Regions from separate parts of the Homo sapiens genome. Here all the other regions are linked to region 3. The links come from fine-mapping of genetic effects on gene expression. A gene starts in region 3. Each other region holds a variant in brackets. All regions are shown on one strand. Distances are from middle to middle. Region 1 has its middle 12 kb from the start of PROM2. Region 2 has its middle 14 kb from the start of LINC00342. Region 3 holds the start of ZNF514 (zinc finger protein 514). Region 4 holds the start of TRIM43B (tripartite motif containing 43B). Region 5 overlaps MAL-AS1 (MAL antisense RNA 1).

What was found.
Region 1: its variant is fine-mapped to the expression of ZNF514 in whole blood (TOPMed, PIP 0.95).
Region 2: its variant is fine-mapped to the expression of ZNF514 in T cells (GENCORD, PIP 0.95).
Region 4: its variant is fine-mapped to the expression of ZNF514 in unexposed skin (GTEx, PIP 0.91).
Region 5: its variant is fine-mapped to the expression of ZNF514 in lymphoblastoid cells (TwinsUK, PIP 0.95).

What each region holds. Positions count from the first base shown.
Region 1 is chr2:95,258,945-95,265,369 of GRCh38, forward strand. It overlaps a transcript of ZNF892 not described here. Among named protein-coding and RNA genes, the nearest start is that of PROM2, 12 kb to the right of the region's middle. RefSeq lists a silencer at 6,020-6,204. The variant G/A (reference allele first, on the strand shown) is at 3,264.
Region 2 is chr2:95,837,953-95,844,377 of GRCh38, forward strand. No RefSeq gene overlaps it. Among named protein-coding and RNA genes, the nearest start is that of LINC00342, 14 kb to the left of the region's middle. The variant G/GTA (reference allele first, on the strand shown) is at 2,977.
Region 3 is chr2:95,156,048-95,162,472 of GRCh38, forward strand. ZNF514 (zinc finger protein 514) reads right to left here and starts at 3,801. Exons shown (of 5, transcript NM_032788.3): 1 at 3,193-3,801; 2 at 1,304-1,392. RefSeq lists a silencer at 3,628-3,877.
Region 4 is chr2:95,479,422-95,485,846 of GRCh38, forward strand. TRIM43B (tripartite motif containing 43B) reads right to left here and starts at 5,333. Exons shown (of 7, transcript NM_001164464.2): 1 at 5,185-5,333; 2 at 2,883-3,297; 3 at 2,174-2,269; 4 at 884-1,114. The coding sequence starts at 3,293. The variant AAGAC/A (reference allele first, on the strand shown) is at 4,005.
Region 5 is chr2:95,003,139-95,009,563 of GRCh38, forward strand. MAL-AS1 (MAL antisense RNA 1) reads right to left here. Exons shown (of 8, transcript XR_007087136.1): 7 at 3,445-6,425. It also overlaps the pseudogene RN7SL575P. Among named protein-coding and RNA genes, the nearest start is that of MAL, 19 kb to the right of the region's middle. The variant T/C (reference allele first, on the strand shown) is at 2,864.

The DNA.
Region 1 (6,425 bases), 100 kb after region 3:
AAAGGCGGAAAGAAATGGCAAGAACTGCCTGCATGTGTATCAGGTTAGACAAGGAGAAGCGATTGCAGAGAATAACTGGATATGTGGCGAGGTGCAAGGGAGAGAATTACTTTAACAAGGTCTGTTTGCAGGGAATTCTCTTGGCGACAACTCCCCATTGAAGAATGTTCCTTTCTTCTGGAGAAAGGAGGGCACCTTTCACGTGGGAGTTTTTGTCTCCTGTTTTCCGGGAAAGAAGGAAGATCAGAGTGCCCTCGTTGCATCTGCTGTTTTCAAGTTGCCTTAGCTTGAGGTAATCCTTATGTCAAAGTGGCCTATTTTGGGGTTGAATGTTCTGCCACTCTTCACTGGGATTGGAGTGTGTATGTGTGTATTTGGGGGAGATTGGAGGCTTGAGTTTGGCGGCTCTGACAAGACCCCAGAGATCCAGGCAGATGGAGGCACCACCATCTTATTACATCACCATCTCAGCATGCTGCTTCAGGGTCTCCCCCATGGAGAAGAAAGCCAGGTGACCTCACACCTACTTTGCTGTGCTTCAGCCAAGAAGTAACCCACTTGATTTTAACTTACAGCCTGCTCATCAGAATTAGCCACATGTCCCTGAGCCAACTACAATGGAGCCTGGAATATGCAATCTTCCCCAGCATCTGGGAGAGGAAAGTGAACATGGAGCATTGTCTTGGCTGTGGTGGCCAACAAACATTGGGACAGAACTTGATTGTAGGGGCACCAGTGGGAGGCGAGTGTTATGATCCGATGGCTTCACTTGTGATCTATTCTTCATGATAATATAGGCTAAACCTGAGCCCTGGGCTCCAGGACAGGCAGTCTGCTGCCTTTGACTAATTTTTAAGTGCAGAGGTGCTGGGCTTCTCTGTAGAGGAGCAGCACTGCTGAATCACAGTGATTTTCCTGGAGAGAGAGTCCTAGGAGGGGATTCCAGCTGTTCCCCACCCCACCTGAAGCAAAGGCTATTATTCCCACAGGAGTGCTCCTGGGGAGCCTGACACCACCAGGGAGGAGCCGCACTTAACCCTGGGGCTTCTTGTCAGAGCTTTGGTTAGGTGAAACCTGGATCCTGGAGGTGCCCTGGGAAGCTTCTGTCTCCAAGATTCACACCCAGGTCCGGCTGCTGCGTGGCTCCCAACATATCACAGAACCAAGGCTCCTTTTTCCAGCTGGCCCATGTCTGAGTTTCTGCTTTATGCTTCTGGTGCTTCTCCCAGCAGCCTGCTGCCTGTTGCAACATGTGCTCACATGCCACACTTCATTTCTGCATCTGTACTCACCAGCTCATCTAGTTCCTCCTGGGCGCCAAACACACACCCACCCTTTTTTGCTGACCTTCTGTCCCTTCCTGGGTTTGCCACCTCCTTGCTTCACACTGACTTTGAAACAGTGTCTGGCCTCCGTGTTACCCGCCTTCTCCCTGATCTAGCCTAGATCCTGAATGCCAGCCATCCCCCTCAGCTCTTCCTCCTGGGCTCCATTCTGCTGACACTCATAATTCCTTCTTTGTCTCCCCTTCTTATCAAAGGCCCAATCTTCATTTGGGGGCACTGCCTCCCTCACCAAAGTGCATTCCTGGACATCCTAGAGCAGCCTACTTCACCAGGTTGTAATTTACACCACAGGTCCCCCTAGGACATTGCCAGTCTCCATGGAAACCTTGACAACAAAGCCAGTCTCCTGGGTTCTCATCCTCTCTCCCTCTGGGGACAAGAAGACTGACTGCAAGAGTAAAGGGCCCATTTCTGTCTCCCTGGGCCCAGGCAAACTGCTGCCTCTGCCTCTGCTGTCTTGGGCCCTGCCTCATCTGCAAGAATGCTGCTCAGGAAGTGCCTGCTTCCTGCATGATGGGAGGTGGGATCACCAGCAGCTGATTGGTGAAGCCGGGGGTCAATCTCAGAGGTCAGCAAGGCCAAACCCCGCTTTGGCACATGGAAGACTGGAGTCCTCAGTGGCTCATGAATCCCAAATGAGAAGGTGAGGGCGGCCTGCAGCCCAGGTGGTTCTCTCTTAGTGTGCAGTGTCCTCTAGGCATCCCTCCAACAGTGACCTGCAAAGGGTTGTGTACATGGAGAGGGCTCACATTCCAGCCCCAGACAGAACCCCATATGATGTTATCATCAGGCTACAAGTTTGAGTTTTCAGTGCCAGGATCTGAGACAGGAGGAGACTCATGACAACCCAGAAGAGGGAGGCCCTGCAGGCAGGCAGAGCCCAGAGAGATTCCCCACCACGGACACCTGTGAGGGCATCAGGAGGAACGTGATGACTGACATTCCTTCCTCTGTGGCACTTACCTTCCTTACCTCCAACCATTTGTCAAAGACCCTTACACAATTCTTTTTTTTTTTTTTTGAGACACGGTTTTGCTCTTTTTGCCCAGGCTGCAGTGCAATGGGGTTATCTCAGCCCACTGCAACCTTCGCCCCCTGGGTTCAAGTGATTCTCCTGCCTCAGCCTCTTGAGTAGCTGGGATTACAGGCACCCGCCACCATGCCCAACTAATTTTTATAGTTTTAGTAGAGACGGGGTTTCACCATGTTGACCAGGTTGGTCTCGAACTCCTGACCTCAGGTGATTTGCCTGCCTCAGCCTCCCAAAGTGCTGGGATTACAGGCGTGAGCCACCACGACTGGCCTCCACAATTCTTTTAGTGGAGATTCAAGGACAAAGGACAGGGACTGGCTCCCAGATTCCAGGTTGTGACCAGTAGCAAAGTGAGCAAAGGGACACTACAGAATCCTCTACTGTGCTGAGGTCTTCGATAGAGGAAGTTGCCTTGCAAGGAGGTGGGAGGGATGCTGTGGGATGGGCTGAGCCATCTAGTTGAATATGAAAGGAGAGGGCCTGGGGACCTCCAGGCAGAAGTCCCGGGAGTTCCTCATTTGCGACTGGTCATGCATCAAGTTCCAGGGCCAAGGCTGGTAGGAATGGGCCCCGTGCAGGCATTGGGGGCTCCCCTTCTCCTTCAGAGCTACATGGAGGTGTGGTGCCAGTCAGTGCACGCTCTAACGTATTTAAGTACCAGCAGAGTAAAACAAGAATGAAAGGGAAAAGAGAAGACATGAATTATTTCGTTTACGCTTGACAAGTACAGGATCCTATTTTAATACAACACAACTTATGGATATGTATTTTTATTTTCTTCAGTACTATGTCATTTGCTTCTAAAATACTTTTACTAATTGGGGACTAGGAGAGTAAAACTTAAATGTATTAGGCAGCAAGAATGCAAGTGAGGGAGAAGTGAG[G/A]GAGAACAGCCACACTTTCTGAGCTGTGCTCTGACAGGGAGAATTTGCTTGGTACACTCAGAACAAAATGCATCTACAGTCAGATAACCTCGAGACACAGAGGATGGCATTGAAGGCTTCATCCACACAGTGTCTACACTCCCTTCTCCCTGAGCCACAGAGCTGTGTCTTTATTCCAGGCAGCAGAGTGCCCGGCCGAAAGTTCATGTTTCCCACCCTACCTGTAGCTATGTGTGGCCTTATGACCAAGTTCTGACTAATAAGATGTGAGTTCAAGGTCTGGGGATGACCTCTGGGAAGGCTGTTTAAAGGAAGTTGAGACCAGGAGGGATACACCTCCTCTCAGCCATCTCTGAGCCTGGGATGTGGAAGGGATGACTAGACCTTCTGCAGCCATTTTGTTCCTTGAAGTAACCACAAGGTTAGAGACTGCCTTAGGATGATAGAGTAGAAAGAGAGAAGGAGCAGGGGTTGTTGACATTTATGGTGCTGCCGGGACAGCCCTAGATTTTCAACCTCCAGTCTCATTTTATGTGAGAGGAAATATATTTCGGCTTAGGTTTCCCCACTGTTATTTGGAGTTTTCTGACGTATTCAACTGAACCTAATCCAAGAGATACTTGACACAGAAATCCCCCTTCTGGGAGACTCAGAAGTTATAGTAGCAAATAAAGACAATAAGGAGCTTTATAATCAACAAACCTATTATAGGCAGAATTCTAAAGATGTCCCTGGAGGACTCCTGTCCCTTGGCTATTCAATCAAATGTCATTCAAGGTATGGCTGTGACACGACTTTGCAGATGTAATTATGGTTACTAACCAGCAGACTTTAAGGTAGGGGATCATCCTGAAATATGTAATTGGTTCCAGTGTGAGTCATTAAATACAGATTAGGAAGCAGATGAGTCAGTCAGAGAGATAAGGCAGAAAAGATGAGAGAATATGGCAGATTCAGGAGTCAGAGAGATTCCAAAGGTGAGGAGGATTGGATGCACCCATGGCTAACAGCCAGCAAGGAAACAGGGGCCTCAGTCCTACAGCTACAAGGACCTGGATACTTCCAACAGCCTAGATTCTACCACAGAGCCTCCAGATCAGAGCCCAAGCCATCAACCCACACCTTGATTTTAGTCTTGTGAGACTCAGAGCAGAGGAACCAGCCGAGCTACCCAACTTCCTACCTACAGAACAATTAGATCATACATTTGCATGGCTTGAAGCCACTAAGCTTGTGGGGATTTCTTTCAGAAATAATAGAAAATGAATACAGAAACCTGATCACTTTCACATAAAATATTAAATTTTTGGCAAAATAACACATACATTTGGTAAAAAATAAAACAGTACAAAAAGAACTATACTGCAAAATCAGCAAAACCCTGCCCTGCCCTTGCTGCCTGCAATCCAACTTTCTTCTCTTAATTATTTTTTCTGATATTACCTCCATATCTCTAAAAAATGTTGCTGTATCTAGATTTGTGAACACAGACATTGCGTATTAACTTTCTATTATGAGAGAATCAAATGTAGCTCCTTCATCCTTTTTCATCACACTACAATTGCTTTAATATGTTTGTTTTTATTTTTTGTTTCTTTGGTTTTTTTTTTTTTTTTTTTTTTTTTTTTGAGAAAGTCTCGCTCTGTTGCCCAGGCTGGGGTGTAGTGGTGCCATCTTGGCTCACCGCAACCTCTGCCTCCCAGGTTCAAGCGATTATTGTGCCTCAACCTCCTGAGTAGCTGGGAATACAGGCATGCACCACCACACCCAGCTAATTTTTGTATTTTTACTAGAGGTGGGATTTCCCCACATTGGTCAGGTTGGTCTCCAACACCTGACCTCAGGTGATCTGCCCGCCTCGGCCTCCCAAAGTGCTAGGGTGTGTTACAGGTGTGAGCCACCGCACCCGGCCACAATTGCTATAATATGAATGAATTCCACCTCCAGTGTTGGCCTAACTCTTGCAGGTGTACTATGATTGCATCTCTTTTCTTAGTCCATGTTATAAAATTTCCCTGTTTGGTAACTTGCATAATTTACTAGACACATATCTTTATTTCCAATACTCCATCAGGCACCTTCTACAGAGTTTTCCTTTATTCTAGAATCCCTATCCCCAGGTATCCCTCTTTCCCTTCCATCCACACACACACACACACACACACACACTGCTCCTCTCCCACTCTAATCTGGTCTGGGTGGTCTCCAAGTTACGTAAACAGGTGGTTGTCATCCTGAGGTGTCTCTGCCTCTCTTTTGGCATTGATTCACTGTTTCCTGATTCCTGTATCTTTCTTATTCTTGGCTTGTGCCACCATTTTTGAGGAATACATCCTCTAGGAAGTTCTACAAAAAAGAATGCAGGATATATTAATGTTTTAGGTTCTTTAGGTCTAATATTGCCATCTTTATGCCACTGAAATGGTAATTTGGCTGGTTATAACAGTCTGAGGGAAGATCATGTGGCCTGTGCATTTGGAGGCCCTTGATCCACACTGTTCTGCATTTGGAAGCGCTGCTGCACTGTCTTCTGCACTGGGAAGTCGCTTATGCACCGTCTGACATATTAGGAAGGCACTGCTCTGCCGTCTCTGCATTTGGGGGCACTGTTCTGCTGTACTCGGCATTTGGATGTTACTGCTCACTGTACTCCAGCTGGAGGCACGGCTCCAACATTCTCTGCATTTGGAAGGAAACATTCCAGTGTTTTCTGCAGTGGGAAGCCCTTTTTCCATTCTTCTGTGGATGTGGAAGGCACTGCTCTGCTTGTGTGTTTGGGGGACACTGTTCTGCTGCTCTCTTCTTTACCATCATCTTCATCTGCAGGCACAAACCCTGTCTTCTGCTGCAGAGCCACTGCCTCCCTGCCCTTTGCAGGCTGAGGCACTGCTCCACAACTACTGCTTCCCTTTGGAGTCAATGCTCCCCTGTCATCTTCACTGACCTGGGACTGCTTGGCAGTCTTATGTATTTAAAGAGACAGCATTCCCTCTTTGCTCTGTATGTGGGAAGGCTCACAACCCACACTGTTGTATTGGGAGGCAGGGCTCCCATGCCCCTTGCACTTGGCTGTCTCTGCTGCTCTCTCACTTTCATCTGGAGTCACTGCTTCCCTGCCCAGTGCATTTGGAAGGCACAGCTGCCCTGTCCTCTGCCTTCGGT
Region 2 (6,425 bases), 680 kb after region 3:
ACCATGAGATGCCACTGCACACGTATTAGAATAACCAAAATCTAGAACCACTGACAACATCAAACGCTGGCAAGGATGTGGAGCAAGAGGAAACTTCATTCATTGCTTGTGGGAATGCAAAATGGTGCAGCCACTTCTTGAAAGTTGTATTCTATGTACCTCAACAACATGGCCTTCACTGTTCATATTCCTATTATCATTTTGGTCGGCCACTTAACCAAGGTCTAATTAAGTTCCACAAGTTTCCTCATCTTCCTGTCTTCTTTGCCTATTACCCAGTTCCAAAGCAAATTCTGCATTATCAGGTATTTTTATAGCAAAACCCCACTCCTTGGTACTAATTTCTGTGTTAGCAACACAGAATAACACAGAAAAGAGCAACATGGAGAAACACAAATTTTTGTGTTGCTATAAAAAAATAGCTGAGACTAGGTAATTTATAAGGAACAGAGGTTTGTTTGGCTCACAGTTTTGCAGGCTGTAGAAGAAGCATGGCAGTGGCATCTGCGCAGCTTCTGGTCAGGGACCCAGAAGGCTTTTACTTGTGGCTAAAGGTGAAGAGACAAGAGGTATGTCACACATGGCTAGAGAGGTAGGAAGAGAGGGGAGAGGTGCCACACTGTTTTAAACAACCATCTTTCATGTAATGCAGTGAGAACCCACTCATTAGTGAAAAGAGGGCAAAAAGCTATCCAGGAGAGATCAACCACCATGACCCAAACACCTCCCACTAGGTCCCACCTCCAACATTGGGGATCAAATCTCGACACAATATTTGGAGGGTACAAATTTGCAAACAATATCACTCTCTTTTTCTCTTTAACTTTGGACAATTTGATTGTAGTGTATCTTGTTGTGAGTCCCTGGATTCACCTTATTTGGTTTCGTTTGGGCTTTCTGGATCAGGCTTTCTGCTTTCTTCCCCATGCTTGATAAATTCTCTGTCATTAATCCTTTAAACATTTTTCTGTTCCTTTCTTCCTCACTTCTCCTTCAGGCATGCCAATAATGCGTGAGTGGTCCTGCTCGATGGTGTCCCATAACTGTCTAAAGTTGTCTTCACTCTGTTTGCATTATCTTTTTTTCTGATCCTCAGGTTAGATAATTTCCAGTGACCAGTCTTAAAGTTCACTTATAGATTCTATTAATGGACACCTCTATTAAATTTTTTCAGTTCAGTTACAGTACACTTTAGATCTATGATTTGTTTGACATTATTGTGTAATGTTTTTCCTTTTCTTGAAGTTCTCAGCTTGTTCTTGCAAAGCTATCTTGACCTCAGTGATTATTGTTATGACCATTATTTGGAAATCTCTGTCAGATAAATTACATATCTGCACTTCACTCAGGTGCTGGAGATTTATCTTGTTTTCTTACTTTGAATATGTTTCCCTGTTTCTTCATTTTTCCTCGACTCTCTCTGTTGGCTCCTGTGCATTTGATAAGACTGGCCTCATGTAGGAAAAGGATCTCACCAAACTTTCCAGCCAGAGATCTTCAGGTACCTCTCAAATCCTTGTGTGCTCTAGTGTTGACTGTTTTTGTTGGCTCCCTGGAACTTAGGATGTGCCACGCCTTGTCAGTAACCAGAAATTGGTTAAGGTAGGAGCCAGACAATCCAGATGTAGCTAAAAAGTTAGAAGGCTGGAGGAGTGTTTCAGTTCTTTCTAGCTACATGATGAAGATTAGTATGGACATTTATCTCCCACTCTCTCTCCATTAAGCTTGGTAGAGGATCTGTGACAAACACACCTATGCACACTCTGGATGCAGCCTCTGATCCTGAGGAGATAGCTTCTGAATGTGGGCCCATTGTATGCTTACTTCTTTGTTTTCTATGGTCTAAATACACTCAAAAATAAAAAATCCTGTCGATTCACAGAGCAAAGTTGTTAAGAAAACAGTTCCTTGGGCACTAACTACAGAGGTTGTGGAATTTGATGCATAATCAAGCTCCTTCCGGGAAGAATGGGTAGGCTTGGATTTATTACTGGGTTGAAACTGACGTAAGACTGGTAGTGTCAAACTATGGTTCCATCTGCCAGATGAATTATACTTTGTAAGCCACATTAGCCCCCATGATGCCAGTATTTAAATACAAAGCTAGAAATGATTAATAGAGTGAGAAAAGCATGTTGAAAGCTCAGATAGGCTGAAAGCTAGGCAACTTGCATTAAACAGTAAACTAAGCTGTGAATGCAAAAAAAAAAAGTTCTTAAAGGAAATTAAACAGGCTACTCCAATGAATGCAGAAATGATAAGTACAATGGTATTACTGCTGATATGAAGAAAGTTTTAGTGGTCTGGATAGAAAATCAAATGAGCCACAACATTTCATTAAGCCAAAGCTGAATCCAGAGCTAAGCCCTAACATTCTTTAATTCTATGAAGTCTGAGACAGGTGAGGAGGCTGCAGAAGACAAGTTTAAACTAGCAGAGGTTGGTTCATGAGGTTTAAGAAAAGAATCTTCATAACATAAAAGTGCAAGGTGAAGCAGCCAGTGCTGATAGAGAAGCTGCATCAAGTTATCCAGAAGATCTAGCTAAGATCATTGATAAGGGCAGTTATGCTAAATAACAGATTTTCAATGTAGACAAAACAGCATTATACTGGAAGAAGAGGATACCTAAAACTTTCACAGCTATAGAGGAGAAGTCAATGCCTGGCTTCTAATCTTCAGAGGACAGGCTGACTTTCTATGTACTGGCTAATGCAGCTGGTTACATTAAAACATTAAAGGAAGTACTCATTTACCATTCTGCTACATTTTTAAGTTCTTCTAAACCTATGCTACCTATACTCTATAAATGAAACAACAAAGCCTGGATGAAAACACATCTGTTTACAGTATGGTTTACCAAATATCTTAAGCACACTGTTGAGACCTATTGTCCAGAAAACATGTGTGTGTGTTTGTGTGTGTGTATACGTGTATGTGTGTGTGTGTATGTATATATATATGTGTATATATATAT[G/GTA]TATATATATATATATCTTTTAAAATATTACTGCTCATTGACAATGCACTCATAACCCAAGAGCTCTGATGGAGTTGTACAAATAGATTAATATTGTTTTCATGCCTGCTAACACAGCATTCATTCTGAAGCCCATGGATCAAGGACATTTTATTATTTAAGAATACATTTTGTAAGCCTATAGCTGCCATAGACAATGATTCTTCTGCGTATCTGCACAAGGCAAATTAAAAATCATTTGGATTTTTTTAGAAAGCAATCACTATTCTAGATGAAATTAAAGATATTTGTGATTCCTTGGAGGAGGTCAAAATATGAAGTTTGGAAGAAGTTGATTTCAGCCCTCATAGATAGCTTGGAGGGTTTCAAGACTTCAGTGGAGGAAGTAACTGTGAGTGTGGTGGAACTAGCGAGAGAACTAAGTAAAATTGGAGCCTGAGCCTGTGACTGAATTTCTGCAGTTTCATGATCAAACTTGAATGTACTAAAAGTTGTTTCTTATAGCCCCATCCATCTGAGATGGAATCTATTCCTTGTGAAGACACTGTTGAAATGACAAAAAAAAAAAACACCTATCTTATTATACAAACTGAGTTGATAAAGCGGTGGCAGCATTAGATAGGATCGACTCATTTTGAAAGGTGTTCTACTGTGAAGTAAAATGCTATCCAACAGCATGGCACACTACAGATAAACCTTTCATCAAAGGAATCAAGGAGTCAACTGATGCAGCAAACTTTACTCTTGTTTTATTTTAAGAAATTGCCACAACCACCTCAATCTGCAGCAACCACCACCTTAATCATGCAGCAACCACCACCTTAATCATTCAGCAGCCATCAACACAGAGGAAAGACTCTTTATCAGCAAAAATTAAAATTCACTGAAGGCTCAGATGATCATTTGCATTTTTAGCAATAAAGTAGTTTTTAAAGTATGTAATTGTAGACATAAGGCTATTGCACATTTTATAGACTATGGTATAGTATAAAAAACTTTTATATGCAGTGTAAAACCAAAAATTCAAGTTCTTGTTACATTGTGGTTGCCTGGAACCACACCTGCAATATCCCTGAAGTATGCCTGTACAAGAAAATATGGATAACATACTAAAATAAATTTGGGAAAAAATTCATTAACAGAATGATAGTTCTGAAGTAGAAATAGATATGATAACAAAAAACAAATAGAAATTCTAGATATAGAGAATACAACAAACTAAAAATTTAATACAATGCTTCAGCAGCTGATTTTATTAGCAGAAAAAAAGAATCAGTGAGCTTACAGAAAAAACATTTGAAATGATTCCATCAGGGGAAAAACAACAACAAAAAAGAATAACAAATGCATATGGCAATTATGGGACTCAATCAAACAACCCAACTTTCATATAATATCAGTTTCTGAAGGAGAAGAAAAAGAAAAAGGCCTAGAAAGCATATTTAATGAAATAATGACTAAAAATTTCCCAAACATGAAGAATGATGACAACACTGAGGTATGAAAACTGCAGAGGTCATGAATCCATTTCAATCCAAGAGGCATTTATCAACACACATCACAATGAAGTTATTAAAAATGAAAAACAAAGAATACTGAAAACAGCAAAAAAACAAGAAATACATCACATTCAAGGGAGCTTCAATATGGCTTTCAGTGGATTTCTCTGCAGAAAACCCTACAGTCCACAAGAGAGAGGGATGATGTATTCAAAATGCTAAAGCAGACAAGCAAGCAAACAAACAAAAATGCCAATCAACAATACTGTTCCCGGCCGGGTGAAGTGGCTCATACCTGTAATCCCAGCACTTTGGGAGGCCGAGGCAGGTGGATCAGGAGGCCAGGAGTTCAAGACCAGCCTGGCCAACATGATGAAACCCCATCTCTACTAAAACTACAAAAATTAGCTGGGCATGGTGGCATGGGCCTGTAATCCCAACTACTTGGGAGGCTGAGGCAGGAGAATTGCTTGAACCTGGCAGGCGGAGATTGCAGTGAGCAAGCTTGAACCTGGGAGGTGAGATCACACCACTGCACTCCAACCTGGGTGACAGAGCAAGACTCCATCTTGAAAAAAAAAAAATTCTGTGCCTAGCAAAGCTGTCCTGTAGAAATGAGGGAGAGGGAGATATAAAAACCTTTCTATACAAAAAAAAACTAATAAAGTTTATAATCAATATCCCTGTTTGATCAGAATTACTAAAGGAAGAGCCTTACATTGAAATAAAAGCCTAAATAGTAAGAAAAAAACATATAAAAGTAAAAAGCTTCAATGCTATCAGTAATACACAGTCATGCTTAAAATGCTGTAATATTCTAAGGGTGGTTTGTAAAGCAATTTTATCCCTACTAGTAGGGTTAGCAGACAAAGGTACTGAAAATAACTGTAGCTACAATAAATTGTTAAGGTATATAAATATGAAATAAAAGGGTAAGTTTTGACAAAATTGTACAATTGTATGGGAGAGAGAATGAAAATGTAGACTTTTGGATGCAATTAAAGAGAAGTTGCTATCAGAAGTTGTTAGAGTAGTTTGTTATAAGAATATGATATTTTAGGTAAGTTTCATGATAACCACAAAACAAAACCTATCATAACTGCACAAAATAAAAAAGTTTATTTTGCAATTTATCCAAAATTTTAAAGCATACCACCACAGAAAGCCATCAAGCTATAAAATAGTTCAGCAAGAGAGAAAAAGGGAACAAAGAACTCATAAAACAATCAGAAAAAAAATTACAAAGTGGCAGTAGCAAGTCCTTCCCTATAAATAATTACCTTGATAGTAAGTGCATTACATTGTCAAATAAAAGGACATAGAGCATCTCAATGGATAGAATAAAAAACAAGATTCAATCATGTGCTGCCTACAAGAGACTCACTTTACCAGTCAAGACATATATAGGCTGAAACTGAAAAGATGAAAAAAGATATTCCATGCAAATGCAAACTAAAATAGAGCAGGGGAGCTATACTTATTATTAAAAGAAATAAACTAAGTCAAAACCTATAAAAGAGATACGGTTCACTGCATAATGATAAAGGAGTTAATTCATCACGAAGACATAATACTTGTAAATATATATGCACTCAAGGTCACAAGACCTAAATTCATAAAGCAATTATTAAATAATCTCATGAGAAAAATATACTGCAATACTATAATAGTAGGAGACCTCAATACCCCAATTTCAACCATGGAAAGATCATTTAGAAAGATAATAAATTAAGAAACATTAGATTTGAATTATACTTTGGAGCAACTGGATCTAACAGATATACCCAGAACATCCTATCCAACAGCAGAAGTGTACCTGTTCTTCTGAAATGTGAGTGGAACATTCTCCAGTATATATCATATGTTAGGCCACAAAACAGATCTTAACAAATATTAGAGAATTGAATTATAGAAAGAAAATTTTTGCATCCCAATGGCATAAAGCTAGAA
Region 3 (6,425 bases):
ATTACCACACTGAACCCACCTAAGTGCTCTGATAAACCTCTGAATGATGTACATCAGGGCCAAAAATATTTAACTGCTATTTATGACTTTACTGATTAAATTCCTTACTAGGGGGGTTCCCCCTTTTGGCTTGAAAGTTAAATGTCAGTGTCTATCATCAAACCTGAATCCCATGCCTATCCTGGATGCTGGGAAACCCCGGAGGCTGGCATTTGTACCCCTCCACATCCAGCTCACTAGAGACAAACCTGAATCCCCCCTGAGGGCCAGTCACCATGATCCCTGATGCCAACAAGGATTAGGCAGTTACCATCTGCCAGCGGAACTGCCAGCGGACTCTAACAACAACATGAGGCGGCTCTATGATTGAGTGGTTAAGATCTCAGAGCCAGACAGCCTGGATGTAAAATTGGGGTCCCTTCCTCACTAACTAGATAACCATGAACAAGTTACTTTCTCTCTCTGTGCCTTGACTTCTTCTGTTAACCTCTCCACACTTTGGTTACCATTCTTCAAAATGGTAACCATTTATGGGAATGTTTTAGAGACAAAATGAATTAGTATGTGTAAATTGTAGAGAATAGTTCCTGATACAGGTTTTGTTCTCCATAAATAATAACTATTTTCATCATCATTAACATTATTATAGTCTTCATGTTACTGCTGCCTGCTTAACATGTTACTGGTGGCAAACCAATGCATAGAGAGGTTAGGTGACTCATCCAAGGCCACACAGCCTGTAAGTAGTAAAGTTAAGTGTGCCTCCTCCCTTATCCAGGGAGATAACATCTGAACAGGGACCCAGCTTCAAATAGCCTGCCCACCTGTCCATACCCTCAGAACCTGCTTGTCCCCAATTCTCCATGAGCTTTCCCAACCTCTCCAGAACAGGCCGATTCCCCTTTTCGTGAACCTCGATGGAAAGGCCTGTCTGTGCCACTCCATTTGGCATCAAACCATTCACATCCTGTTACTGGTGGCTGCGTCCTGGGTGTCAGGGTCCTCTTCCACTGTGGCTGTGACACTCTTTCAAGGCCAGGGCTGTCACATTACCTGGTGGTCACCACAGTGCCCTTTCTAGAAATATGTCAGAGTAAGCCCAAACGATCTGAGTGGGTGCACAGCAAGAAGAGAACACCCCGGACAGGTCAGGGAGCCATCATTCACTTGGATGGGCTCAGCCTCCTGCAGAGACAGCATTGGGTCAGTTCCCTTAGTGAAAAAAGAGGCTACTTTTTGGTGAAAAGTAGGCAAAGCTAACCATCGTTCAGGCATTTGAGGAAAAATTAAGAATACAACTCACCCGAGGCCTGGCTTTCAGGAATGAATTGGTTGTTCCCTCTTCTCCTGGGAATCTCTCTGGAGGAAGAGCAGGATTCTGAGAAGGGGAAGCTGGGAAGGTAGAAGGAGACATAAGGGAAGCTGACCCAGCCAGCACACACAGCTCTCAGACTTCCCAAGCCTGAGACCCAGAACAGCTCTGAATGTCACCTCCGTTGTTCTGAGGACACCAGTGGATCAAAAGGATCTGAGAGGCAGCTTCTAGCCTTCAAACATTGAGAGAAGTGCCCCTGTACACAGCTGCATGAGGCTCCCACCTGTCCACAGCCCACATCAGTCTACAAGTGAGTGAAGTGTGACCAGTCTGGCCATACCACTGAAGTTATTTACTGGGCATACTGTATGCAGGTCATCTCCTAGGACTTTTGGAAATATAAATATGGAAAAGAACTTCAAGGAACTTTAAATCTAGCCTACAGGTTAACAATTACACAAGACCCAAGGCAAGGCCATGCAGGATTATGAGGCTTTAAGGGGAGGAAGTTACACCTCTCCCCTCATCCTTGGGAACCCAGCTCAGAGGCCACCTCTTTCTGAGAAGCTGCCCCTGGTGTTCCCAAGCTCTGTTAGGTCTCTGCAACACACTTGAGAGCTCCTTCATTATAAAGCTTTGCATCATACTGTTCATAAAAGCCTTAAAACAAACAAAAAAACTAACCCAAACCATGCCAGAGAAGTAGTTAAGGCTAACAACATGGGTGTAAGCATAGCACAGTTAGGCATTCCTCAAGCTTCATGTGTGTGTGGATCCCTGAGGATCTTGTTAAACTCTGGCTCAAGACTTGCTAAGACACTGTTTGAGGATGTGTGGGGCCCCAGAGTCTGCAATTCTAGAGAACTTCTGGGCAATGCCTCTGCTGTTCCCAGAGCCACACTGATTAACAAGGGTATAAAGGAAAAAAGAGGGGGTGGGAAGCCCACGGACTGGGCCCAGTTCTTCCACTGGCCAGTTATGTGTCCTTGAGCATGTGCACTGAAGGATGAACAGTCGGATTAAAATGCCCACCTGGTTAGAGATAGGACGTTCTAAACTTAGGACTGGCTTAAAACCTCCTGGGTCACCTGGATTGCCCTGCCCCCAACGCTATTGGGGGAAGGGGCTCAGAGGAGATACCCACCATGTACACTGCTGACCTTATACACCGCTGAGCTAGAACGACTGGAAGAACCTTATTAGTGAGGTGATTAAGGAGGTGGATGACAAGGCTCCAAATGGCCCTATCGTCCTCTGATCCCTGGCCAAGGGCCACTCCCTCTTGGGTTTGCTTGCCCTCTCCCTGCCGCAGCAGGAAGAGATCAGATCCTCTTCTGCTCTCCTCTGGCCATTGGGACAATTTTCCATGGCCATCCCCTCCACCTCCGCCACGGTCATCTAGAGACCCCTGCCAGACCCAGGAGACTGCGGCTTCAGCCTTCTGGGTCTGGAAGGTTAGATGTCGCCACACGGAAGGCAGATGAAGTACAGCCTCACCCTTCAGTGGGATTCCCCGGCCTCTTCCTGGGGTCCTCCTGATATCGGGCTCGGTACTAGCTCCCCAAGAGGGCTCCTGGCCCTCTGCACGCTCCAGAGCCAAACCTGATGCTGTGGAGTCCATAGCTGGGGCTAAGGAGCGGCGTCCTTTCACTAGGTCCAAATCTCTGTCTTTCGGCCACAGCCCTGTGGTCCTCCCGAGGGTTCAGGGAGCGGGACGCAGGCTGGGGCTGCCTGGGGGACACGGGGCATCCCCACTAGGCGCGGCGGGGCCAGCGGACCTGCAGGGCCCAGAGCAGGGCCGGCAAACCCCGGTGCGCCCAGCGCGGCGCACTGCTGCCCGGGGTCGTGCTCTTCCCTCGCCAAGTCCGGCCTCCTACCCCCGGCTCGGCTCCTCCTCAGGACCAGGCTCTGGAACCCAGCTCCCACGTGGATCCACACGCACAGTGGGCTCAGACTACCAGGAGACACGGCCACAGCCACGCCCGCGACGCGAGGGCCCAGCGCTCTTCAGCTGCCCGGAAACAGCAGGGATTCGGTGAGAGCCTCACAGGAGCAGGGACCGACTCTATCAGCCCGGTTCGCCCCGCTGTCCCTGCCTAGCTCCGGCCTGCACAGTCCCTAGCGGGGGGCACTCGGAGGGACACACCCAGCTCTGTAAGGGGCCGGGGCGCGGGCCCAGTACAGGTCTGCGCGCCCGCAGTCTCCGAACGCTCACAGGACCAGGCCCCGCCCGCCACCCCGCGCCAGCCCCCGCCCGCCACCCCGCGCCAGCCCCCGCCCGCCACCCCGCGCCAGCCCCCGCCCGCCACCCCGCGCCAGCCCCCGCGTCCGCCCCGCGCCAGCCCCCGCGTCCGCCCCGCGCCAGCCCCCGCGTCCGCCCCGCGCCAGCCCCGCCTCCCGAGGCCGTCCCGAGCTTGCGCAGACGCGGCCGCCGCCGGGGCCCTTCAGAGCCAGCGCCGGTGGCGGGGTGCTGGCGCGGCGAAGCTGGAGAGGCGGGGCTCGCGGGCGCCTGTAGGACCTCCGCTGGGAGGGGCCGTGCTCGCCGGCCACGCGCCGGTTTTCACTCCGCTCTCCCCCAAGGGCAGGGACCTACAAGCATTTCCCTTCTCGCGCGTGACTTTGGTAGCTGAGCCTCATATCTCTCTCGTTTTTTGGGGGGAGGGGGGAGACAGCCTCACTCTGTCGCCCAGGTGGGAGTGCAGGGGCGCGCTCTCGGCTCACCGCAACCTGTCTTCTGGGTACAAGTAATTCTCGTGTCTCAGCCTCCGTAGGAGCTGGGATTACAGGTTCCCGCCACCACGCCCAGCTAATTTGTTGTATTTTTAGTGGAGACGGGGTTTCACTATGTTAGCCACGCTGGTCTCGAATTCTGACCTCAGATGATCCTCCCGCCTCAGCCTCCCAAAGTGCTGTGATTACAGGTGTGAGCCACCGCCCCCAACCTGCATATCTCGATGTAAGGCTATTCAACAGAAGCCGCGTTCCTACCCTGGATCTGCTGAGTGAGGATTTCCAGGAGGCTCTCCTGGCGTGCCTAGGGGATACTGGGGACTCAGTGCTAGATACTGCTTCTACAGGCTGCCCCGTGCCTCTTGCCTTTCTCCATCTGCCCCTGAATTCAGCGAAGGGTGCTGAAGAACAAAAGAGGACTTTGAACGCCCTCCTACTCCAGAAACAAATATCATTTAGGACCCAAAAGAAATGGAAAAACGGCCTGCTATGGTCTGAATGTATGTGTCCCCCTCAAATTCATATGTTGAAACCTAACTCCCAAGGTGATAGTATTAAGAAGTGGAGCCTTTGGAAGACTCTGCCCTCATGAATGAGATTAGTGCCCTTTAAAAACAGCCCTTAGACCGGTCGTGGTGGCTCACATCTGTAATCCCAGCACTTTGGGAGGCCAAGGCGGGCGGATCACTTGAGGTCAGAAGTTTGAGACCAGCCTGGCCAACATGGTGAAACCCTGTCTCTACCAAAAATATATTTAAAAATTAGCTGGGCGTGGTGGTGCACGCCTGTAATCCTAGCTACTCAGGAGGCTGAGACAGGAGAATTGCTTGAACCCGGGAGGCAGAGGTTGTGAGCCAAGATCGTGCCACTGCACTCCAGCCTGGGCGACAGAGCAAGACTCCGTCTCAAAAAATAAATTAAATAAATAAATAAAAATAAAAACGGGCCTTAAGCCCCCTTTGCTCCTCCTGCCATGTGAGGACACAGAAGGTGCCATCTATGAGAAACGTACCCTCACCAGCCCCTGAACTGGCTGGCACGTTGATATTGCATTTCCCAGCATCCAGAACTGTGAACAACAAATTTGTGTTGTTTACAAATTCCCCAGTTTAAGACACTCTGTTATAGCAGCGCCAATGCCTAAGACACAGTCTGAGTATTAAAACGGTGGTTTTCTGGAGGCAGTCCTCAGCCAGAGAAGGGCCACTTGTGAGGACAGAGAGATTGGTTTATCAACCCTATTTAGGAGTTCAGGACAAAATAACTTACAAAATCAAGGCAAAGACAAAATAACACGAAATCAAGGCAAAGAGACCATTCTCCTTTCCTGCTTTTGCAGTCTCTGTTTCACTTTTCTGCCAGCACTTCCAGTGGCACAGATGGCCAGGATGGCGCAGCAAGCAAGCCCTTTTCCACGCAGGGGGACATTGTCTGGGAACCATGGCTGATATAGGAGCTTTTCCATCTTCGGTGCTCCGAACCAAAAAGGTGAGGGGATGGACAAATGAGAAAAGATTTTCATCTCATTGATGGCTCAACAGAACTAGAAATGGAACTACTTCAGAAGAACTTGAGGGCCACTGCCTTTCCCTGATGCCCATTCTGTAGGCCTGCTGCAGTGTCTGAAATTCCCCACTCTTACATTGTGTCCTTTGGGACAGATCTTGATCCAGAGGCCCTTGTTTGTTACAATGCACATTCATTACCCCAGGAATATTCTCTCTCCTGCTCAGTGCTCTAGTGCACCATTTGATCTCAAAGCACTGTTGGTGGGGCTCCAGTCCTCACCAGCCTATACACTCTCCATCACCTTCAATATTCCTTTTACTGCTCCTTTGCAGTCAAATGCCTCTTCCACCCCAACCCGTGACCACTGCTCTGTTACCTTCCCTATAGTTTTGCCTTTTCCTGAATGTCACATAAATGGAATCATACAGTTTGTAAATTTTTAAGACTGGCGGCCGGGCGCAGTGGCTCACACCTGTCTCTACTAAACCCCGTCTCTACTAAAAATACAAAAATTAGCCGCGTGTGGTGGCGTGCGCCTGTAATCCCAGCTACCTAGGAGGCTGAGGCACGAAAATCTCTGGAACCCGGGAGGCAGAGGCTGCAGTGGGCCGAGGTTGCAACACTGCACTCCAGCCTGGGTGACAGAGCAAGACTCCATCTCAAAAAAAAAAAAAAAAAAGAAACGAAAACTGGCTTCTTGGCCGGGCGCAGTGGCTCATGCCTGTAATCCCAGCACTTTGGGAGGCCGAGGTGGGCGGATCACCTGAGCTCAGGAGACCAACCTGACCAAAATGGAGAAAACCTGTCTCTACTAAAAATACACAATTAGCTGGGCATGGTGGCACACGCCTGTAATCCCAGGTACTCGGGA
Region 4 (6,425 bases), 320 kb after region 3:
GAGAAAAAAAAAATGACTTCTTTAGAAAGTTGTTATTCTTGTTGGGTGAGGTGGTTCACACCTGTAATCCCAGCACTTTGGGAGGCCAAGGTGGGTGGAACACCTGAGGTCAGGAGTTCCAGACTAGCCTGGACAACATGGCAAATCCCCGTCTCTACTAAAAATACACACACACACACAAATAGTGGGGTGTGGTGGTTCATGCCTTTAGTCCCAGCTACTAGGGAGGCTGAGGCAGGAGAATTGCTTGAACCAAGGAGGCAGAAGTTGCAGTGAGCTGAGATTGGGCCATTGGACTTCAGTCTGGGTGACAGAAGAAGACTCTGTCTCAAAATAAACACACAAAAAAGTTGCTATTCTGCCTATCTGGTCTTTAGGTTTTCAAAACTTTAGAATTACCGTATACTATTACTGCCACTCTTTTAAAATGTATTCTCATCTCTAACAATTATACCAGTAAGACCTATTGACAATATGGATTTCTGATAAATTAAGGACCCTAAATTTGAGTGAGAGAGAAAGGTGTGAGTAGTGACTGCGCATTGCTGCAGCTGTCTACAATGTGGTCTTTTTCAGGGCTAGTCCCCAAAGTGTAATGTGGCTCAAATCAAGCATGAAATTTTTTCTTCCAGAGTTTTAATGAAATGTGCTGGAGGAGGAAGCTTGTGGTAGAAAATGTTGTATGGAAATCTAGTTGCACAATTCCATAAAGCTTTATTTCCATGATTAGCGTAGGAGTTATAGTTTATCTCTATAACCGGTGGGAATGACTCTCACCGTCAGTGCAGGAGATGAGGAAATAATGTCTTTGGTACCCAATGGAAGGCAAAGATGTAAAGGTCAGCTAACACAAAGTGTCTCAAGGGGCATCCTCCATTCTTACCTGGAGCAGCTCCACCTCTGGTTTATGACACATTTCCATTAGTTCCTGATACATTTCTTTCAAGTGTTTACTCTTTTGATCCATTTTGACCCAACTTCTCTGGAGTTGCTGAAAAATCTCTTGGTATTCCTTGTTCAGTCTCTCTAAATGTTGTTTTTCTTCCTTATGGAGAACCGGATGCAGCTTCCTATACTCATTCCTGATCATCTGTGCCCGTAAAACCACATCGCCCTGTAGGGATATGAATTTTGTAGGTTATATACCCAGGCCTACTTCCACCTCACAGAGCCCACAACTTCATCCTCCTCATTCCTTCTTTTATTTTCCATCCTTTACAAACAGGATGATGAGTTAAGCAAGACCTTCCTTCAAAATTTATGTAATTCATCAATTCCCAAACACCTGCAAAAAAGCCCTTTAGGTTTAAATGTTTAAATCAAATCGGAAATACAATTAGAAAACAACTAAAATTTATGATTGATTGTTACATTGTCATGGATAATACACATAATCTTTGTTATTCACTTAGGTTGTTGTTTCAAATCTCTGTACTTCACAGCCTGAACAATCACTCTTAGTAGAAATGTTTTTAGTATATTATAATCAGGATCAGAAGCCATCACACAAAAAGGATCTTAGTAAAAAATTTAACCCCCATCTCTCAAACCGACTACCTCTTTTCTGTCTCCTATCTTTCTTCTGTCAAATCCATAGACTCTGTATTGCACTGCCATTCTAAGAACATTAATCCCCATTCCATTGTGTTTCTCCTCTCAATAATGACATATTTATCCTCTCACTGCCCCAGTCATTTTTTATCCCTTCTCCTCAGCTTTTCCTCATGTTGCATTTTCTCCTACTCGGACTGGCATCATGTGGGTCCTTTGCTACCAGATTTCACCAGCACAGGCACATTTCTTAAATTACTGTTCCCACCCGATTTCTTCCCCCGGACAATACCATATTCACCAATAAATGCCTTTATTTCTCAATTATATACTATTTAATCAATATTTCATAATTCATTTTATACAGAAAACTGTCTGAAATACTTATTAATTTTAAGCACATACTTGCCCTTCAGAATTTATATTTATTTTTTACTTATCTGAAAAGCATTTACAGAAAACCTGAACAATCGTTATGTTGAACAGTCTGGTTGTTTTCCAGCCTATGAATAAACACATGACAAAATCTGGCATATGAGAATTTCAACTCAAGTTGCTAATATAAATGTTGTCAGCATGCCTGTCTCAAGCTGGTCAGGAGGACTCACGGTCTCATACTTACCCTCAAGAGGAAGGCTGTTCTTCTCTCCTCATATAGATTTCTCTGATTTTCTTGAATCTTTTTCCATAAAATCCTCATTTGCTTTAAGAGTTTCTCCTGCAAAAGAATTAAAGGTTGAACAGAAAGTCAAATACCAAAGATTCCACCATCTGAGTGGTATAAGCAGGCAAGGGATCTAATATATAAATACATTAGTGAGAGGAGAAAAAAACAAAATTTTTCATTGCTCATCCTTAATTGATATTTTTCAGTTTGAGGTTTCAGAATGTAGAACAGTTTAGGGAACTGAAGAGTGAAGATTTCCTGTAACCCAGCTAAATTAGTTCAGGGAAACATCCTGCTTCAGAACCCACTATGCTAGCCCCTGATTTTGTAGTGTGCTACTCCCATACTCATTTGTCCAGTAATATTAAATATATTTCCAAAATACCTTTCTTTGCACTGGTAGTTTTGGTAGCTTTTCAATGTCATTAGCATTGAACTGTAGAGTCAATAATAATGACATTTACTTAATCAGTCTCTTTTTGGGTGCAAGCTCCATGAAGGAAGGTAGAGTTGCACATTTTATTCAAAATGTCATCATTGGTACCTAGAACAGCACCTGGCACTCAGTAAAGAATGGAGTAATCACCGTGATTCTCATCATCCTTCTAATCTCTTTAACTCTGCCACCCTCCAGCTTTCAGGTGATCACAGAGCTATCTCTTACCCGGTCTTCCTCAGCTGCCTCTTCGATGGGATAGTGTTTGTGAGCCCCGTGCTCCTGAGAGTTGGAGCACAGCAAGCAGAGGAGACTCTTGTCCATGTCACAGAACATCTTCTTTGTTTGCCTATGGGTCCCACATATTTGTTTCTCAGAGCTCAGGAATTGCCAGAGACTGGCTTTTCTGGCAATGGTCACTAAATTCTTCAGAAGAATATTGGTTTTGAAGTCCATTTTCGGTGATGGTTCCCTGCATGCAGGGCAGTTTGCAGGACTTTGGGCTTCCTCCCACGAAAGGCAGAGACAGGGCCTACAGAAGCTGTGCCCACAGCAGATGGTGACAGGGTCTACCAGGTAGTTCAAACAGATGACACAGGTGAGTTCCTTCTGGAAGGCATGTGAGAAGTCTGAGTCCATTTTCCTAAGGAAAGAAAACCACAGGAATTTAATCTTCTACCCTGGAGAGACAAAGATCCAAGCAAAGTTTGAATCAGATCGTGATCGAATAATATCCTTTCTTTCTAAAGAAGTATAGGTTTTAATTTGCAATGACAGAAATAGGAAAAATAGAAAACTAAGGCACAAAGAGACATCAATCTCTATAAAAAGTGACTGTTCTCCAATCAACACATGACCAGCTTTCCAAACTCTACTTTCTTGCATGGAAGAATGTCGGATTTTTTGAGGTGTTAGTATCCACCAAATTGCTTGGGCTTCAAGGGTTTCATCAACCTGTAAACTCAAAGTTTGAGTCTTGAACGGTCTGAAAATCAGTAACAGTCTTCATTGCCAGTGATTGGTTTAGAGAAGGAAAGCTAACTAAGCTCTTCTACTCTCATTATTTTATTTAACTATAACAACCATCCATAATGACTTTTCCAGAAGGACATTGCTTGAAAATGTTAGAGCAGAACTCATACTTTGACCCAAATCAGAAAAAGCCAGCCTTTACTCTCCAAGGAAAAACAGTCAAATCAAGGTAAGTTACCTCTCCAAGGTAAAGCTAAGAATCATTGTTTTTCTAGGCTGCTATGTTAATTTAATCAACAAAAACTTTCTGGCATGTTTCCTGTTCCTGGACAGTCTGTTAATTTGGGGATATACTGGTTAATATTACAACATCTTTAA[AAGAC/A]AGACAATTAATTCAATTTACAAAAAGATAATGATAATTGAAGCATTATCATTACTCTTTCACACAGTCAGGAAAAGAGTAAGTATCATGCAATAACAGGCACTAGAGGCCGGGCACGGTGGCTGACGCCTGTAATCCGAGCACTTTGGGAGGCCGAGGTGGCTGAGGCTGGCAGATCACGATGTCACGAGATCAAGACCATCCTGGCTAACATGGTGAATCCCTAACTCTACTAAAAAATACAAAAAATTAGCCGGGAGTGGTGGAGGACGCCTGTAGTCCCAGCTACTCTGGAGGCGGGGCCTGGAGAATGGCGTGAACCCGGGAGGCGGAGCTTGCAGTGAGCCGAGATAGTGCCACAGCACTCCAGTCTGGGTAACAGAGCAAGACTCTGTCTCCCCCCCAAAACAAAAACAAAAACAAAAACGAGGCACTAGACAGTTAAGTCAGCGTTTTAAATGTATGTTTTGCTAAAATACAAATAAAAATTAAAACCAAGCCAGGGAAGGTGACTCAAGCCTGTAATCCCAGCATTTTGGGAGGCCAAGTCAGGCAGGTATTTTGAGCTCAGGAACTCTAGACTGGTGACACGGTAAAATGTCTAGATCATCCTGTCTCTAAAAATACTTATATAAATTTAAAAAAAAAAAAAAAAAAAAGGCCGGGCGCGGTGGCTCAGGCCTGTAATCCCAACACTTTCAGAGGCCGAGGTGAACGGATCACAAGATCAAGAGATGGAGACCATCCTGGCCAACATAATGAAACCCCGTCTCTACTAAAAAAAATACAAAATTTAGATGGGCGTGGTGGCAGGCGGCTATATTTCCAGCTACTCTGGAGGCGGAGGCTGAAGAATCGTTTGAACCTGGAAGGCGGAGGTTGCAGTGAGCCAAGAGCGCCGCCGCACTCCAGCCTGGCAATAGAGCGTGATTCCATCTCAAAATAAATAAATAAACAAATAAATAAATAGCTGAACATGGTGGCCCATGTTTAATCCATAAACCTATGGATTATGTTTAAAATAATTTTAAAAAAGAAATGGAGCCTTTTTAAAACTCGGAAAATGAGATCATTCCATCTAAAAATAATCTAAGTTTGCAGATAAATTAAAGTCCCCAAATTTTGTTTTGGTTTGTAACCTAATAGTAGATCCTTCTCTGGAAATTGTGTACTTACCTCAGAAATATATCTATGTTCTCACCAAAGCTTGCTGTCGAATCAGATGGATTCAGCTCAGGGATGAGAGTCTCACAGTGCAGTGCTGGTAGCTTTCGGAAGTCCCCAAAGCCAGTTGCAAAGCTACTCTGTGGGCTCTGGAGAAGAATGAGCTTGGCTCCTGAAGTGTCGGTTTATAAATCTCTGAAGACCACACCCCTTTCTTCCAATTGATTGCATTTCACAGGGCGTAGGTGGGTGTTAACATAGATGATTAAGTTTCTTCAGAACAGAAGTTTTATCTTTATTTATTTATTTTTTTTGAAAGGAGTCTGGCTCTGTCGCTGGCTAGTTTTTTTCTTGCATTTTTAGTAGAGAGGGGGTTTGATATAATTGATATAATAGGAATTGCAAATAGAGAAGCCCACACAAGCTAACCAAATTAATTCTAGTTTATTGGATAAATGGCGTGATATGTATTCTAGTTCAAATTTGAAGGTTGGTATAAACCTTTTCAGACACTGGAGATGAGACATTTCACCAAGATTGGGTGTGAGGAAGAGGAAAGAAATAGAATAGTATATAAAATAGTATATAGAGTAAAAATATAGTAAAAGGAAAAATCAATCTGCATAATATAGTGTATGGCTAAATGTGTTTTAACATTTAGGTGAATCAGACATGGAAAAATCCTAAAAGGGAGATTAATAGAGTAGATAATTGACTCAGTAAGAACTGTGAATAAGCATCTCAGGAAGAGAAACTAGAAGTCTTTATATAGGTTTTGATTTAAAGAGGGAGAGAGAATAGGAACATTGAAAAAGATGGACAGAAAGAAATAACAAATATTCAAGACTCCTTGCAAGAGTGAGGCAGAAAGTTTATAGATTGCTTGATTACACCCAGCATATAATTATTTGAAGTTTTCTGTTGAGAGTGAGAGTATGTAATCCTTTTAACCAAATGTCTCCGCAGAACTATGTGTCATTAAGTAAGGTGATAATCAATATTCAATATCAAAAGATGCGTCTATTTCTCGATGAGGAGAAGCAACTTCATCTGCAGGCACTGGACAGAGAAGCAAAAGGGCTTTTCCAACAACTACAAGACAGTCAAGTGAGAATGACCCAACATTTAGAAAGGATGAAAGACATGTACAGAGAGCTGTGGGAGACGTGCCACATGCCTGACGTGGAGCTGCTCCAGGTGAGGAGGGAGGGTCCATCCCCAAAGAAAGGAAGACTTTGCTGGACAATGCTGCC
Region 5 (6,425 bases), 150 kb before region 3:
TCAAAAAAAAAAAAAAAAGACTCATTTAAAAGACTCAAAACCAATTTACTATCAGACCATTGACATAATTAAAAAAGAAAATGAGTATATTAAATTTTTAAAGCCAGTTTAGAATGTTGGAAGATGTTTCCTTTATTAAATTTGTGATTAAAATCAAATGTTGGCCAGGTGCACTGGCTCAAGCCTGTAATCCCAGAACTTTGAGAGGCTGAGGCAGGAGGATAGCTTCAGCCCAGGAGTTTGAGACCTGCTTGGGCCACATAGTGAAGACCCCCATCTCTAAAAAAAAATTTTTTTAATTAGCTGGAAGCAGGAGAGAAGTGGGTGTGGCCCTAAAAGGGCAGCATGAGGGATCCCTGTGGGGAAGGAGCTGTTATGCATCTTTTCCTACTTTTACATTTTTTTAAGAGATGGGGTCTTGCTGGGTTGCCCAGGCTGGAGTGCAGTGGCCATTCACAGGCGCGATCCCATAACTGATCAGCACAGGAGTTTTGACCTTTTCCATCTCTGACCTGGGCCAGTTCACCCCTCCTTAGGCAATCCAGTGCTTCCCTGCTCCCAGGAGGTCACCATATTGATGCCCAACTTAGTGTGGATACCCAATTGGCACAGCACACTACAGCCCAGAATTCCTGGACTCAAATGATCCTCCTGCCTCTGCCTCATGAGTGGCTGGGACTGCAGGCACCTGCCACAATGCCCAGCAGATGCTTGGCCTCTTGAGTGTGGTAGTGGATACAAAATCTATTCTGTGTGGGTGATAAAGCTGTACAGAACTAAATACACATGCACACACACACACACAAATGGATACAAGTAACACTGAGGAAACCTGAAAATTGGTGGAGTGTATCAGCATCAATGTCCTTGTTGTGATATTGTACTATGGTTTTGCAACCTGTTATTATGGAGGGGAACAGGGCAAAGGGCACACAGGATCTCTCTGTATTATTTCTTACAACTGCCTGTGAATCTATAATGATCTCAAAATAAACAGTTTCATTTTTGGTTTTTTGTTGTTTTTTTTTTTCTTAAAGTGCTTTGGATCAGGAGGCAGGGACCTGGGATCTGGCCATGTTGTTCCAAGTCAGTCACTGTGTGACCTTGGGCAGTTCACTTCTCTTCGCTGCTTCTGTTTTCCTTAACTGGAAGATAAAAGTTTAAATTTCCTAAAGGTGTCCCCCAGTGTGGACAGCCCGGAGTCAAGGCTGTGGTGTTGCTGTGACCTGAGGCCTCAGGTCTAAGAGGCTGCTCCTCAGCTGCATACAGTGGGCAGGCCTCTATAGCATGCCCTGTCCCCTGGGGGACCGCAGTGGCAGGCACAGCACAGGACGTTAGGTACTAGGACCAGGAGTCCTGGCCTGAGGGGTCACTGGCTGCCGCAGGCTTGGCCAAACTGGCCTTAGGCCAGATGCTCCGTGTTATGACCTGCACCTGCTCTCTGTGGGAGGCAGAAAACAGAGCTGGGGCATATATGAGCTGGGGCACATATGTGCTGGGGCACATATGAGCCACCTGGGAGCTACAGAGAGAAGAGCAAGGAGGAGGATGTCGCGCCAGGCTGAGGTCAAAAACTGCGTGCCTGAGTCAGCCAGCGTCCAGTCTGGAAAACAGAAACCATGCTGGGTATTTCACAAAGAGGGGATTTAATTCAGGGGCCTGATTACAAATAGTTTCCAGGGCACAAGGAGTACAAAAGGAGATGAGAGATAACCCAGAGAATTAATAACCACAGGAAGTGAGCGCACCCCTTAGGGCTGGAGGATCACAAGACAAGAGGTCCTGGTGTCTGAGCAGAGGAGTGCGCTGCTGCCGACAGCACCGACCCGCGGGGGTGGGGGTGGGGGAGCACTAAACTCCTGCAGTCAGTGCCCCACCAGAAGTAGAGTGAACAATGGTTTCTTTCCTCTACCCACCTTCCTACAGCCTGCCAGAGCCCACCACTGGCCAAATGTAACTAAACCCCAGCAGCAAGGCGCCTGGGAAATGAAAAAGCAAGGCCACCAAGTTGCTCTTTGAGAAGTCTGACTCCAAATACACCACAGCCTGTTTACCAGGACCTGTGAGCACGGACACGTGGACGCAAACACTTGCTATTTACTTCCTTCTTGATGTATATTTTTTGGACAACATTCACATTCTTATTTTATTTGACTTTAGGGAGTTATTGGTTTTTCTTTTTTAAAAAAAATTCCTTATAGAAATAATAAATAATAGAATTTACAAAAATATTTTAGAAAATTCCATGACTCATAAAGCAAAAGTAGAAATCACTGGGAATGCTCTGCTGCCCCCATGATGGTCAATGTGAATATTTTGGTGCTGGTGTGGCGTGTCCTTCCTGGCTGTATCTGTAAATGTGTTGGGTTAAAATGGGGTCTTGGCTTCTCCATGGAAAGCAGGACATGCCAAAGGATCCCCATGACAAAGGTCCAGCCACATAGGACTTTCCAGGGGGCATTCTGCCACTTTTATTAGTGCATTGCCCATGCTGATGACAGAGAGGAAGGCAGGAGGGTACCCCAAGCCAAATACAGGGAGTGTCAAGAGAGTGCTCTGAGAACTTGGCTGGGTCCCTGGAGGTGGGGTGGGGAGCACCAGGACCCAGTACCAGATGTGTGCCTGGAAAAACCTAAGAGCGAGGCCTGCAGCAGCTGCTGCCTCTACAACAGGGGGAAGAGGGAGTGAAGGCAGAAGCACGTGGCCTTCCCTGGGCAGCAGGGTCAGCTGCACTAACTGGCTTCTCTAAGGGGCCTAGATGGCTTGGACAGACAAGGCGAGTCCCCCACCAGGGGAATCCCAGGTGAGTTGGCAGCCAACAGGCCAGAGCTGAGAGCTAACAGCCAGCAAAGGAAGGGCGCCA[T/C]CAAGGAACCACAGGTGCGGCCCCTAGCACAAAAGCACCACGGCACGAGAGAGGGCGCCTCAGGGCACAGCCTGGCAGAGAGAACTTCAGAGAGCCCCAGCGACCTAGGGTTCAGCCTTTGCTCTGCCCACTGGCCCTGGGCAGAGAAGGGGTGGAGAGAGGGGGTGGGGCCAAAAGCACAGTTGCTAAATAGGAGAAAAGGTAAAGTGAGGAAGAGAGAAAAGCCCCCACACAGAAGCTGCCCCTTCTACTGAAGGTTTTCAAGCCTGGGCTGGGGAGGTGGGTGTTTGGATTGGATAAAAGATTGCAGCTTTGGTTTCAGACTGGGCTGGATTTTCTAATCTTGAAAAACAAAACCATTCCTGGATACCCGAGACCCATGTGTGGCAACTGAGCCCTCAAAACAAGACTGGTCCAAATAGCAATGTGCTGTGAGTGTAAAATACACATCGAACTTCAAAGAACTGGAACAGAAAGAACGTAAAATATCTCAAAAATTGTTCTATTAATGTATATGTTTAAGTGATAATGTTTTAGAGATCTTGGGGCTAAACATAATACATTATTAAAGTTAATTCTACCTGTTCCATTTCACTTTTTCTAATGTGGCCACTAGAGCATGGAAGCTTAGGCATGCAGCCGCTGGGCTCTGATCATCTTTCTCTTGGACGCACAGCACAAGAACACAGCTGAGGTTTCTTCTGGGGCTGGGAGGAGGGCTCTCCTTGGCATTCAAAGGGGTGAGGGGAGAAGGTTGAAAGTTACTTTTCTGTTTTCCCTTCCAACAGACTATGCAGTGCCTCGGTGGCACAGGACATCGGCAGCAGCCGCACGGGAATTTCCCACCGCCCCTTTACTTCACTCCAGGGTAGTTCCTGTTCTGGTTACTTACTTCCAGGGCAGTTCCTGTTCTGGATGAAAGCACAGCAGGGGATCTGTTCATTCTTGGGTGATAAAAACTGGATCCAGTGTTGAGTCCCCTTCTCTCCTCACCCCCTAAACCCCCTCCAGCCTGCTGCAGCCAGGGCGGGGCGGCACAGTGGGCTGCCTAACTCTTCTTCACACCCCTTCTCCTCAAAGCCATTTCCAGCCCTTCCAGTATGGAGACGGGAAAGGGAGAAAGGAAAGCAGCAGGAGCGCTTTCACCCACTGATGCCTGTGATGGGATCTGGCCCTGGCAGAGGTGCTTTCCTGACTCCTTCGGAGATTTCCCCCACCACCCCCCACTCCAGGTGCTGCACGGCGCACCTTTGGCTACAGACCCTAAGGAGGAGAAGGCCGCTCTGTTCAGATTGGCCACTCCCTCCTTCCTCGGCCCCTGGGCAGCCAGCCTCACCTCCAGCCCCTGGGGTGGTCTCTTCCCACAGGAGCTGCCACCACCTTGGGCCGCCTCACTCTCTCACCTGGCCTCTGGTCAATGGGAACGCTTTGGCTCTTCTTTCCCATGACCCACTTGGGCTCCAGCATAAGAGCAGGCTGCCAGCCTGACTTCACCCTCTGGATCATCCAAGCCTGGGTCTGAGGCCAGTCTCTATGTCCCTCATGCTGCGGGGGTCCCAGGTTAAACTCTCCCAGCAGGCTCCTTAAAGCCCTTACTTCGGATGGACTAGACCAGTTACACCCCTCTTCTACCCCCAGGATGGCTCCTGCCCCCACGAAGCTCTTTCTGAGGCCCACCTCTCAGCCTTTCCTCCCTCGATGAAAGGGAGCTTTGAGGGATCATGCAAAGCATTTTCCCAGCCCCTCCGTGGAGATTCTGCAGGTGGTTGCCCCAGGAGAAAAACACAATCTCAAAGCGCTCTCAGGATATTTGCTAGGAAAGGAGATGCTAATGGTGAGGAAAGCCAGAAGCACTGTGGGATTGGGGTTCCCAGGACAGCCGCCAGCCCAGTCCTGGCAAAAAGCTTCCTTATAAGGGTATCCTACTGCAGCGCTGCCTCGCAGCCACCTCTAAAGGCCCTTTCTGGGCCTCATCAGCCAGCAAGCGTGTCACATGCCTGATGTCACAGGGCTGTGGCTGTGGTCATGCACATGGAGACAGCTCCGCTCTCAGCAGGCGCTCTTGTCTCTGTCACAGAACATTTTCATTCTGGCACAGCTGTGCACCTGCTCAGTAATGTCTCCTGTGCCCTCAGAGGGTCAAGTTGAGAACCCGCTCCTCAGCTTCCAGTTAGTTGTATCTGGCCCTCCTCCTTGGTCGCTGTAGAGGTCTGCTCCTCCCTGAAATGCGGAGCCTCTTGTCTCTGTCTGTCTACACCAAACTCTCCGTGTAAGCATCTACTGCACACAGGCAAAGCAAAAGGGGTCCCTCCCTTTCATGTGTATATGTGTATAGAGTGTAATTGAACATCTTTCCATCTTATTGTAGGTACACATTGTAGTGTGTCCCCATGACAAATCCCAGAATCCCTACAAGGCAGGTGTAATGAAACCCCCGCTCAGCTTGGCTTAAGGCCACCCGTTTCTGTTACAGTCACTTAAAGAGCAGTGAGGGGAGCAGGCTCTGGCCAGCAGCCCTTGACAAGCTCTGGATGCCCTGCTCTCCATGGGCCCAGCCTGTGCACTGACCCTGTCTCTGAGTCACCATGGCCCAGGGAGGGTTAGAATAAAGTAGAGAATTATTAAATAAACCAAACCCAAAATAATAATATTTCATGTAAGTTTGCACATAGTTTACAAATTCTAGGTGTTTCATCAAGTTTAAAAGAAATTAGCCCTAATGGAGTAAATATTCACCTTTTTTGCTTCTAATTTAAAATATGTCATCAGCTGAGCTTTGTGATTTTTACTTAAAATGTCCTAAATTTATAAGCAGTATAGAAGACTTGAGAGAACTCAAAATACACCATATTTCTAGATTTAATCTATTGGATTCATAAGTTGTTTAAATATTCAGGAATATTTTAAATAATTCTAATAATTAGAATACTTACAGGAAAAACAGAAACTATTACATTTATAAATACAATTCTAAAGGTTTAAGGGAATTTAATCCTTAAGAAATTATTAAGAAATAAAGTTGTCCTTAAAATGATTGCCAAAAATGTTAGACAAAATATGTACAATTTTCAAAATATACACGTACAATTTTACAATTTGCTGGCTGAAATTAAATGCCTGAGTAAAAACTGGGTTTTTGAATGTGTGGGTTTAATGAGTGAGATATTAACTCTATAAAGCAGAGTAACCTCTGGTTAACCTTTCCTGTAACAAAAACTTTCTTCAAGGACAACAAAAGGTGCCATGAAGGAGGCCTCCTTTCCAGGGCCGGTCAGAGGAAGCCAGAGTGACCCTAAAGCCCACAGCACTGTGGGCAAAGAAGTGGAATAAAGAATAAAAAGAATAACCATAACTTAAAGAGGGCAAGTCTAGTCAAGGTAACACCTGCCTACCCAAGGGGTCACAATCTTTATATATTGCTCCAAAGTTTCATTATCTGGGCAATAATTTCAAAATTCATCACGTATCCCATTATTATATAAATCTACTCTTCAATTCTTTGTAAGGTTGAACCCTGCTCAGCGCAGGGACGTTTTGCTGTGGGGCTGTGCAGCCTCAGCAG